Linked DNA regions of Homo sapiens. The protein of the gene in region 2 purifies or fractionates together with the protein of the main gene of each other region. This does not show direct contact. Each region holds a gene or a part of one and is shown on either strand. Other genes may lie near its edges.

Region 1 (4,536 bases), on a different chromosome or scaffold from region 2:
TGCCTCAAAAAATAAAATAAACAAACAAAAAGAAGTAAATGAGGCCACACTCCTAGGAGGCCTGGCACATTGACAAAGCTTGACCATTGTCTTGAGGAGAACAAGGAGCCTGTGTTACCCTCCACCCAGCCAGGCTGCCCAGATCCACTGAGGGGTCTTCCTGCATGCCCCCTCCTTACACTGGCCAAGCTTCCTGCCCACCCCAAGGACGTCTGCTTCCTAAAGCACTGCTTGAGTACCTGAGAAAAGTGAGCACTCGGCTGCCATGGGAGCCTCCCCCCGCACCCCAGGATCCTCAGGCCTGACCTTTCCTCCTCCTCTCCAGCCATTGGCACAGCATATGCGGTACTCAGCAACCCGGAGAAGAGGAAGCAGTATGACCAGTTCGGCGATGACAAGAGCCAGGCGGCCCGGCACGGCCATGGGCATGGGGATTTCCACCGTGGCTTTGAGGCCGACATCTCCCCTGAAGACCTCTTCAACATGTTCTTTGGCGGCGGCTTCCCTTCTAGTAAGTTCCCCACCCTCCCCACAGCCAGGTATCCCTGGGGTGATGGTGGGAATGGCATGCCAGCCTCTCCCTTTCCCAACAGACCTGGCTCCTGACTCAGCCCCTCTGACCCCCAGGTAACGTCCACGTCTACAGCAACGGCCGCATGCGCTATACCTACCAGCAAAGGCAGGACCGCAGGGACAACCAGGGTGATGTGAGTGAGGAGGGCGCCAGGGACAGCGCGGGAAGGGCACCAAATCCACCCCAGGGAGGGGGCTTGGAGGAGGGTGTTCCCTCCCACACTGTCCATTCTGGGACCAGCAGAGTCCCCATAACTCTCAGCCAAGGAGCCCTCTGGGCCTCCCTTGCCATTCTGCTGAGTGACACCAGAGGGCGCCACACGAGGGAGCCATGCTCCACATTGCCGGCGGGAGCGCGGCTTTGCTGGCCTGGCTGGGGAGTGGAACCAGAAACCCCACCCACAGCCAGGTTTGAGTGTGAGGCTCCCATGCAGACCGCTCGCTGGTAAGGCCAAAGTGACATCCTCTAAGCAATGGAAAGTTACACTTTGTGAGAGAATTTTATTTTATTTTTCATTTTTTTCATGGGTCTCAGCTATTTTCTCTCAACTTTGTGAGAGAAATTTCTTTTTTTTTAATTGAGATGGAGTCTTGCTCTCTCGCCCAGGCTGAGTGCAGTGGCGCGATCTCGGCTCACTGCAACCTCCGCCTCCCGGGTTCAAGCCATTCTCCTGCCTCAGCCTCCCGAGTAACTGGGATTACGGGTGCGTGCCACCACCCCCGGCTAATTTTGTATTTTTAGTAGAGATGGGGTTTCACCATGTTGGCCAGGCTGGCCTTGAACTCCTGACCTCTGGTGATTCACCCGCCTCAGCCTCCCAAAGTGCTGGGATTATGGGCGTGAGCCACTGCGCTCTGCCACTGAGAGAATTTTAAAGGATGACAACATAGGTGCCGACTCTTCTTGCTAAAAAGCCAAAAGATACTTTTAAAAAGATATTTACAAAAATTTGGGAGGCCAAGGTGGGTAGATCACCTGAGGTCAGGAGTTTGAGAGCAGTCTGGCCAACATGGTGAAACCCCGTCTCTACTAAACATACAAAAATTAGCTGGGCGTAGTGGCAGGCGCCTTTAATCCCTACTCGGGAAGCTGAGGCATGAGAATCACTTGAACCCAGGAGGCAGAGGTTGTGTTGAGCCGAGATCGTGCCACTGCACTCCATCCTAGGCAACAGAGCAAGACTCCGTCTCAAAAAAAAAAAAAAGTATAAAAATTATAACTAGACAGTGCTTCAAACACATTTTGTATGCCACAGATCAAAGAACAGCTAGCTGGCTAAAATTAAAATATTGTGGACAATTGCAAAACATTTTAAATTCTGGCCAGGCGGAAGGGGTTTCCTTTTGCTCTGACAATATTTATTCAATTTTTTTTTTTTTTAATTTTTTGAGATGGAGTCTCGCTCTGTTGCCCATGCCGGAGTGCAGTGGCACAATCTTGGCTCACTGCAACCTCTGCCTCCCAGGTTCAAGTGATTCTCCTGTCTCAGGCTCCTACGTAGCTGGGAGTACAGGCGCCCGCCACCACACCCAGCTAATTTTTGTATTTTTAGTAGAGACGGGGTTTCACCATGTTGGCCAGGCTGGTCTCGAACTCCTGACCTCGTGATCTGCCTGCCCCTTCCTCCCAAAGTGCTGGGATTACAGGCGTGAGCCACCATGCCGGCCTTTTTTTTTTTTTTTTGAGACAGGGTCTCGTTCTGTCACCCTGGCTAGAGTGCAGGAGCCTCCCCTCCCAGGCAAAGCTCCCACCTCAGGCTCCCCAGTAGCTGGGACCACAGGCCCACACCACCACACCCAGCTAATTTTTTGTATTTTTTGTAGAGATAGGGTCTTACTTTGCTGTTTGAGCACAGGCTGGTCTCAAACTCTTGGGCTCAAGTGGTCCTCCTGCCTCAGCCTCCCACAGTGCTGGGATTACAGGCATGAGCCATTGCCCCTGATCAAAATTTTTTTATTTTGTATCTAACAACAGAAGAGTTTAACATCACAGATTATCACACAGTGAATATATTTGTTAATTTTTATTTCTAATTCTTCTTTTTTTGTTTGTTTGCTTTTTCTGCACCCTAGAACCAGTGCTATTTCTAATTTTTATTTTGTTTTAATTATTATTTTTTGTAGAGATGGGGGTGTATGTTGGCCAGACTGGTCTTGAACTCCTGGCCTCACGTGTTCCTCTCATGTTGGTCTCCCAAAGTGTTGGGATTACAGGCATGAGCCGCCACACTGGCCATAATGTTTAAATTGGTAATATATTTGTGTGGTTCACATCTCAAAAACTTGTATATACTGCATGTCTCCTTCCAGCCCTGCCTTCCATTCTCCTGGAGGAAGCAACTTTTGCTGATTTTTTTTTTTTTTTGGCATTCTGTCAAAAGTAAATGCAGACACCTCACTTCCTCCTGTATTTCACACCAGTTGCTGCTTTGTTTTTATCTGGGAAAGCTGGCAGGTGAAGGAGCGTCTGTGTTTTGGAGCCTCGTGGAGGGAACGGCAGAGTGGTGTCATGTCTCCCCAGGCTCCACTATTCTAGGGGAGCTAGTGGTGATTATGGCTGACACCACACCCCACCCAGGTCCAGCAGAGTGACATTGGCTCTTCCCTCCAGGGCGGGCTAGGGGTGTTTGTGCAGCTGATGCCTATCCTCATCCTGATTCTCGTGTCAGCTCTCAGCCAGCTCATGGTCTCCAGTCCACCCTACAGTCTGAGTCCAAGACCGTGAGTACATGGGTGAGGCCGGGCCATGGGCAGACAAGGGGCTTTAAATTCTCAGCCCCATCAGGGGCCTTCTTTCCCATCCTGATCCAGCCAGTGTGCGATCATAATGCAGAAACCTGGCTTCGAATCAAGAAAATATACTTTCTCTATTCAACTAGGACTCTTAAGCTTTTTAGGATTATGGTCCCCTAAGAAATTGCAGCGAGAGCTACAGAACTTTTCCCTAAAACTATGCACACATGTGCACACACACATACACACACACGATACACATGTACACACACACACAATACATGCACACACATAATACACATGCACACATACACGCACACATATACACACAGAGTTTTGCATATAATTTCGGCGGCTTTGTGACTCTTCCCTGCCCATCTCCCCTGCCAACCCTGACGAAGAACCTCTGCTCCTCGGCTCTGGTTGGGCTTCCTGAGGCTGTGGAAAGAACAGGGCACTAGAGTCAGACAGAGCAAGCATGGCTTAGAATCCCAGCTTCTCCACTAAGAAGCTGTGTGACCCTAAACAAGTTATATAACCTTGGTTTCCTCATCTATAAAATGGGAATTATAACATCCACCTGCTGTGGAAATTAATGAGTAATGCATATAAAATGTCTGGCCCACTAGAAATGCTCAACAATATTAGTTTAATGAATGCTTAGTCTCGACTGCCAGGAGTGAACTTGAGGACATTTCATGAGCCGTTAGGGGGTCAGCTCCCCTCACTGATGTCCAGCACCTGGCCCAGGGTCAGCTACACAGTGGGTGCACATCTTCAGTGGGGTGGGTCCCCCTCTCCCAAAAGGTGGCCACCTCTGGCTGGGAGCTGGCAGGACCCTTCTCAGCCAGCAGGGGGCAGAGTCGGTCCACTGGACCCTGGCCGCCGGCTCAGGCTCCCTGTGGCCAGATGCCAGCCCTTTTCCCTGCAACTGGAGAGATGTGAGGAGCAGAGGACTAGGGCAGGGACTGTTGTCCCCAGAGCACTGGTCCTGTCTGGGTGTCAAGGCTCTTCCCACAGCTGACAGAGCCTGTGATTGGAGCTGGGAGGATAAGGCTCCCTGGAGCCCTTCCTGTCATTTTGTTCCTAAGCCTCTTAACCCTACACTGGGAACTCCTAGATAGGCAGGCAAGCACTCAGCAACAATTGGCTTAGGGGATGAATGGGGAGATGGAGGCACAGAGGCAGAGCCCAGATTCCCTCTCAGGTCTCCAGTTCCCTAGACCAGGC
Region 2 (6,015 bases):
AGGATGCAGTCAGGTGAAAACACTTGCTGGAGCAGCATCCAAGGCCTTGGACCTAATGAGCAAAAGCACAGAGGTGATAAGCGACATGTGTGTTCAAGACTCTGGAGGGTCAAGTGGGAATCACATGGTGAGACATGAAATACGAGAGGTATGCAGAGGCCACACCCACAACCATGGACTTCCATAGGGTAAGGATTTGGGGTGTGGGAGAGGGGCAGTGGAAGGTACATTTGCGTTTTAAATCATTGGTGACCAAAAAATAACATACTGGTGATTGAAAGGGAGATGAACACAAGCCAAGATTGTGAAACCACATCAAATCATTAAGAGTTCAAGAAATCAAAGCAGCGATGGGCAGTGGTTTGAAAATTCTTGGTTAGATGTTTACATTGTAACAATTTGCATTTCAGAATGACTCAGCCAAACAGTCACTGAAGAAATGGAGAGTAAAATCTTGTTTTTTGAGTTACAGGTATTTCTGCATAATACCTTACACCTAATAGATGTTTGAGATGACCCACCAAGGTTACGTTAAAAAAACCATAAATGTCTCCAATTCCAAAAGACACCATAGATGAGGTACTTAGGATTTTCAGTAGCTCAGTTCATTATGTCTCTGACACCTAAATGTGTTATAAACCAAGCTATCAGAAATCATGACAGCCTCATCTCACTTTTATTTACATTACCAAAGTGGTGCTGGAGGCAAGTGATGAAGGATGAAAAATATCTGCAGACCCACCAACATACTCAGTCTAAAAGCATTTCTCCCTTTTTTTTGTTTTGTTTTGTGAGACGGAGTCTCGCTAATTCTCCCTTTTTAAGTATGTAAACTTCCCGAGAAGAGGGAGCTTTCCTGGCACTCAGTAAAATAATTATTAAGTGGATTAATGAATGGCACCAGATAATGCTGACTGAGGCCTTAACATTGCTTTTATTGCAAAGTGCTCTGGAAGCCCTAATTTTTTCTGAATTAAAAAATAGGGTTTTGTTTTATTTTGGTTTGGTTTTTGTTTTGTTTTGTTTTGTTTTTGGTCAGATATCTGCCCTGGCGATGCTCTTTGGTTTAAAGTAGTTGCTTTTTAAACATTTGAAGATGGATCAAAATTAAGGCTGCTTGTACTCTGATAATCATGATTATGGTGTTATTTAGAGCCCAGCCCAAATACCTGAGCCTAAATGAGTGAAAGAGCAGAGAGTGGGCGTTTTTTTGTTTTTTTTGTTTTGTTTTTTGTTTTTTTGAGACGGAGTCTCGCTCAGTAGCCCAGGCTGGAGTGCAGTGGTGTGATCTGGGCTCACTGCAACCTCCGCCTCCCAGGTTCAAGCAATTCTCTGCCTCAACCTCCAGAGTAGCTGGGATTACAGGCACCCACCACCACGACCGGCTAATATTTTGTATTTTTAGTAGAGACAGGGTTTCACCATCTTGGCCAGGCTGGTCTTGAACTCCTGACCTCGTGATCCACCCGCCTCGGCCTCCGAAAGTGCTGGGATTACAGGCGTGAGCCACCGTGCCCGGCAGAGTGGGCGTTTTTAAATGAAGCAGTATTCCTTTAGTTTGGTAAAATTGAGCTGAAGTTACACACAGTAACACCTTGACTTGTTGCTGACGGTGTGCTTTGTGGGGATAGTTGGTGTCTGATCTCAACTGTGGAGAAACAGGAAGTTTCTGGATTCATGCTGAACTCCCATTCCACAGGCGAGTTTCACAAAAGAAAAAGTGCTCTGTTGCATACAATTATTCACTGTGTGTCTACAACGTGGCAGAAATTATTATTCCTAAAGGTGACCGAAGAGAGCTATAGTTTATGGGGCCAGGAGCAATGTGTGGAATGGCGAGGCAGTGACAAGACAGCACTGCCATAAATCTCTTACTTTCTTTCCAAACGAGCTCTAATTTTAAGCTCAACGACCAAAGACGGAGAGGCAGTCGCTTTGAGCTACTCCTGGCTATTTGTTGGGAAATCACCTAAATCCGTTCAGATTTAGCCAGAAAAGGGGAAATAAGTCTCCCTCGCCGGCCAAATCATGGCCTTTGTCGCTTTCGGCTCCCCATTGGCTGCGGCCGCTGTGGCCCCGCCTCCTTGAGTGGTGCGGAGCTTTGTGATGCGGAGCTTCGTGATGCACGCCCCGATGCCTGCGGGGCTATAAAAACGCTCGCAAGCGCCAAGTCTCCTCAGGAGCCGCCGGCAAGGGGGCAACGAGGAAGCTCTTAAGAGCGCGGCCGGAAAGCAGGTGGGGAGAATCTGGAGAAAAGGCGCACCCTGCGGCCTCGGAGACCATTATGTCTCAGGGAGTCTCTCGCAGTGGGAGAGGTCGTCGGGGCAGGCGGAGGGTCCTCAGAGTCGGGGGTGGGGGGCCTGTGGGGCGGCCCCGGCCCACACCGGGGAGTGCGGCGACCAGACGGCCAGCTGCCGAATCTGAGGCCTCGGTGGGTCCGTCGCCCGCCTCTCTTGGACAAGTCCAGGCGATGTGAGCACGCCCAGCCTCCTACATTTCACTCCCGTCTCTCCCAAACAGACCTAGCGCAAAACGAGCACTGACACAGCGGGGGCCCACATCCCGGAGGTTCTTTAGGGAGAGGTCGGGGAGTGCGGTTACCTATGGCTCCGAAGTCCCCGCTGGCATCCTGAAAGGCATCGTATTTCTCGCTTAAGGCGTTACCCTTGTGGTAGTGGGCGCATGGACGTTTACAGTTGGGCGGGGCAGGATTTAAATTCCGCCAGTGGTGGACCAGTATTGGTGATAGGAGAGATCTGGGAAGAATTATTAAGCTGTCGCTTTTAAATAACCCTAATAGTGTTTGTGACAATTTTACCCGTTGACTTTTCTCAGCTTGCTTAGGACAGTTCTTTGTGGGGAACTGAACTGTAGGACGTTTAGCGTCCCTGGCCCCACACGTTCCCAAAGTCGGGGTGAGAACTAGTGGGACGGGGGATCATGGAGTGCATGGCCGCTGTCCCCACCTTTGGTAGCACCAACTGCTAACTGCCTCCTGAAAGGTTGTTGGCGCCATCATGGTTTCTGGGAGCCACTTTCTTTTTTATTCTTTTTTTTTTTTTTTGAGACGGACTCTAGCTGTGTCACCCAGGCTGGAGTGCAGTGGCGCGATCTCGGCTGTCAGCTCCGCCTCCCGGATTCACGCCATTCTCCTGCCTCAGCCTCCCGAGTAGCTGGGACTACAGGCACCCGCCACCACGCCCGGCTGATTTTTTGTTTTAGTAGAGACGGGGTTTCACCGTGTTAGCCAGGATGGTCTCCATCTCCTGACCTCGCCTCGTGATCCGCCCGACTCGGCCTCCCAAAGTGCTGGGATTACAGGCGTGAGCCACCGCGCCCGGCCTCTGGGAGCCACTTTCAAAACGGTCTATCTACTCACTTTGGGTACTTAAAGAAAATTAGACATATGATATATATGAGTATGTATCAAATATATATATGTATCAAATAGTATGTATGTATCAAACATGTCATGCTGCCTATGCCCCTTAGCATTTAGCATGTGGGACTGCGGAATCCCCACTTCTGATTTTTTAAAAAATTCTTTTTTTGTGAGTACACAGTAGGTGTATATATTTATGGGGCACATGAGATGTTTTGATTCAGACATACAATGTTAATCACATTGGGAATGGGGCATCTATCCCCTCAAACATTTATCCTTTGTGTTACAAACAATCCAGTTATACTCTTTCTGTTATTTTAAAATGTACAATTATTGACTATAGACACCCTGTTGTGCTTTCAAGTAGTAGGTTTTATTCATTTTTTATACCCATTAACCAGCCCCACTTTCCCCCTCCCCCACCCAGGCCCCATTACCTTTCCCAGCTTCTGGTAACCATCCTTCTCTATGTCCGTGGGTTCAATTGTTTCAATTTTTAGCTCTCACAAATAAGAGACCATGCAATGTTTTCCTTTCTGTGCCTCACTTACTTCATTTAACATAATAATCTCCAGTTCCATCCACTTTGTTGCAAATGACAGGATCTCATTCTTTTTTAATGGCTGAATAGTACTCCATTGTATGTATGTACCACATTTTCTTTATCCATTCATCTGTTGATAGACGCTTAGGTTGCTTCCAAATCTTAGCTATTGTCAACAGTGCTGGAACAAACATGGGAGTGCAGATATCTCTTCTGTATACTGATTTCCATTTGGGTATATACCCAGCAGTGGGATTGCTGGATCACTTCTGGTTTTTTAAAGATGGTTTAATTCAGTAAATCTGTTGAATGATATCGTAAAAGGAAGTTTTCATTAAGGGATTCAATTATACTTAATTATATACTGAAAGGATTTGCTTTGGCCAGTACAGATTCATTTTGTCCTGACCTTTGGGAAGATGAGATGTGTTTTTAAGTATTGAACATTTTGCTATGAGATATTCGTTACTTTATAATAGAAGCTGTGCCCTTCTATAATTGTTGTAACTGAACTATGCCACTTAACCCCGTGAAACTCATTATTTACTGTAGGGATGTTGTTGAGGACATGGTTCATTATATCACACTATTTGCTTTATAAGGACTTGGGGGAGAAATTTCTCCTGGGTTTCAGTATCCAGAATAGCTGTGGTTCTCCCATACAACTGATGTGTTTTTCACCTCAAGAAACCTGAATCATTTAACCACCTATCTCCTATTTTGTGATGGCTGCTTGGTAGCTTAGGGGCCGATTTGATGCCCATCTTTATCAAAGTGAAGGAGCTATGGCATGCATTGGAGTGCTAACTTTACCTGTAGCTTCACCTTGTTTTTCCTATCTTAGTTTTCCTAGGGATTTTCTTAAATATTTAATTTTGTTCTTTAGAAGCCTTAGGTGATTTTTTAGGAGTCAGAATACATACACCCTGACACAGTTTCAGGTGGCAGCCTCTGCAACTCTGAGAATTACAGGTTGGTCTGTGCAGTATCTCTGATACCACTTAAAAGGCAGAAAGGCAGAAGGGGAAACATAAGGGAAAATTTGGGAAGAGGGTAAGGGAGATATGAGAAACGAAAGGTACAAATGACAGTGGGTGGTATAATAATACCACAAATAAATTATACTCACACTGATTAATGTTAAAAACAAAGTTATTCCTGCAGGTACAAAGCAGGCTGAAAAAACCCCAAAATTTAAAGCTAAAAAATGCACACTTAAACATGAGCAATGGTCGGGCACGGTGGCTCATGCCTGTAATCCCAACACTTTGGGAGCCTGTGGGTGGATCACAAGGTCAGGAGTTCAAGACCAGCCTGGCCAAGATGGTGAAACCCTGTCTCTACTAAAAATACAAAAATTAGCCGGGCGTGGTGGCCAGTACCTGTAATCCCAGCTACTCGGGAGGCTGAGGCAGAGAATTGCTTGAACCCAGGAAGGGGAGGTTGCAGTTAGCTGAGATCACGCCACTGCACTCCAGCCTGGGTGGCAGAGCGAGACTCCATCTCAAAAAAAAAAGCAGCATGTCTGAGAATATATTTAGAAAAATAAGGAAAAACATTTTCTTATAGAAAAAAACTTATCTTGTAACTGTTTGATGAATATATGTACAGAAGGGCCAGTGCCTGTGTGGTTTGGAAGGACTTGTTTAGAAACAGATACATGAAATGTTAACTGCACAAAATATTCACTGAATTTTACAGAGGCAGGTCTTGTTTTTTGTTCTTTGTTTTTAATGTCCTCAGGGTCTTGGCAGGGCTTTTCCTATGGATTTCTATCATGGTACTAGATTGCTCATCTGCACATAGTAGGCTATTGTTAGTAGGGTTGTGTGTTTTTTTTTTTTAAACTACCATCAAGAATTAGCCCATTTTACTAAAATGAATACCTACATATTAGAACTAAAGCTGATAATTTTAATAGGAGATAGTTTATTCTTGGAAACTATAGTTAACTCATAAGGACTATTTTAGTCACTTTGGGAGGCCGAGGCGGGCAGATCATGAGGTCAGGAGATCGAGACCATCCTGGCTAACACGGTGAAACCCTGGCTCTACTAAAAAATACAAAAAATTAGCGGGGTGTGGT

Evidence for each region.
Region 1: the proteins of CABYR (region 2) and DNAJB12 purify together in Homo sapiens (affinity purification with mass spectrometry; one large-scale study listed by BioGRID and IntAct). This does not show direct contact.

The regions. Positions count from the first base shown.
Region 1 is NC_000010.11:72,336,960-72,341,495, reverse strand, and holds part of DNAJB12 (dnaJ homolog subfamily B member 12), read left to right. Parts: intron 1-325; coding exon 326-511; intron 512-627; coding exon 628-707; intron 708-3,184; coding exon 3,185-3,294; intron 3,295-4,536. UniProt on the Homo sapiens protein: Acts as a co-chaperone with HSPA8/Hsc70; required to promote protein folding and trafficking, prevent aggregation of client proteins, and promote unfolded proteins to endoplasmic reticulum-associated degradation (ERAD) pathway.
Region 2 is NC_000018.10:24,136,884-24,142,898, forward strand, and holds the start of CABYR (calcium-binding tyrosine phosphorylation-regulated protein), read left to right. Parts: upstream 1-2,178; 5' UTR 2,179-2,235; exon of another isoform or gene 2,236-2,472; intron 2,473-2,600; exon of another isoform or gene 2,601-2,636; intron 2,637-6,015. UniProt on the Homo sapiens protein: May function as a regulator of both motility- and head-associated functions such as capacitation and the acrosome reaction. Isoform 1 binds calcium in vitro. Isoform 2 and isoform 6 probably bind calcium. Isoform 3 and isoform 5 do not bind calcium in vitro.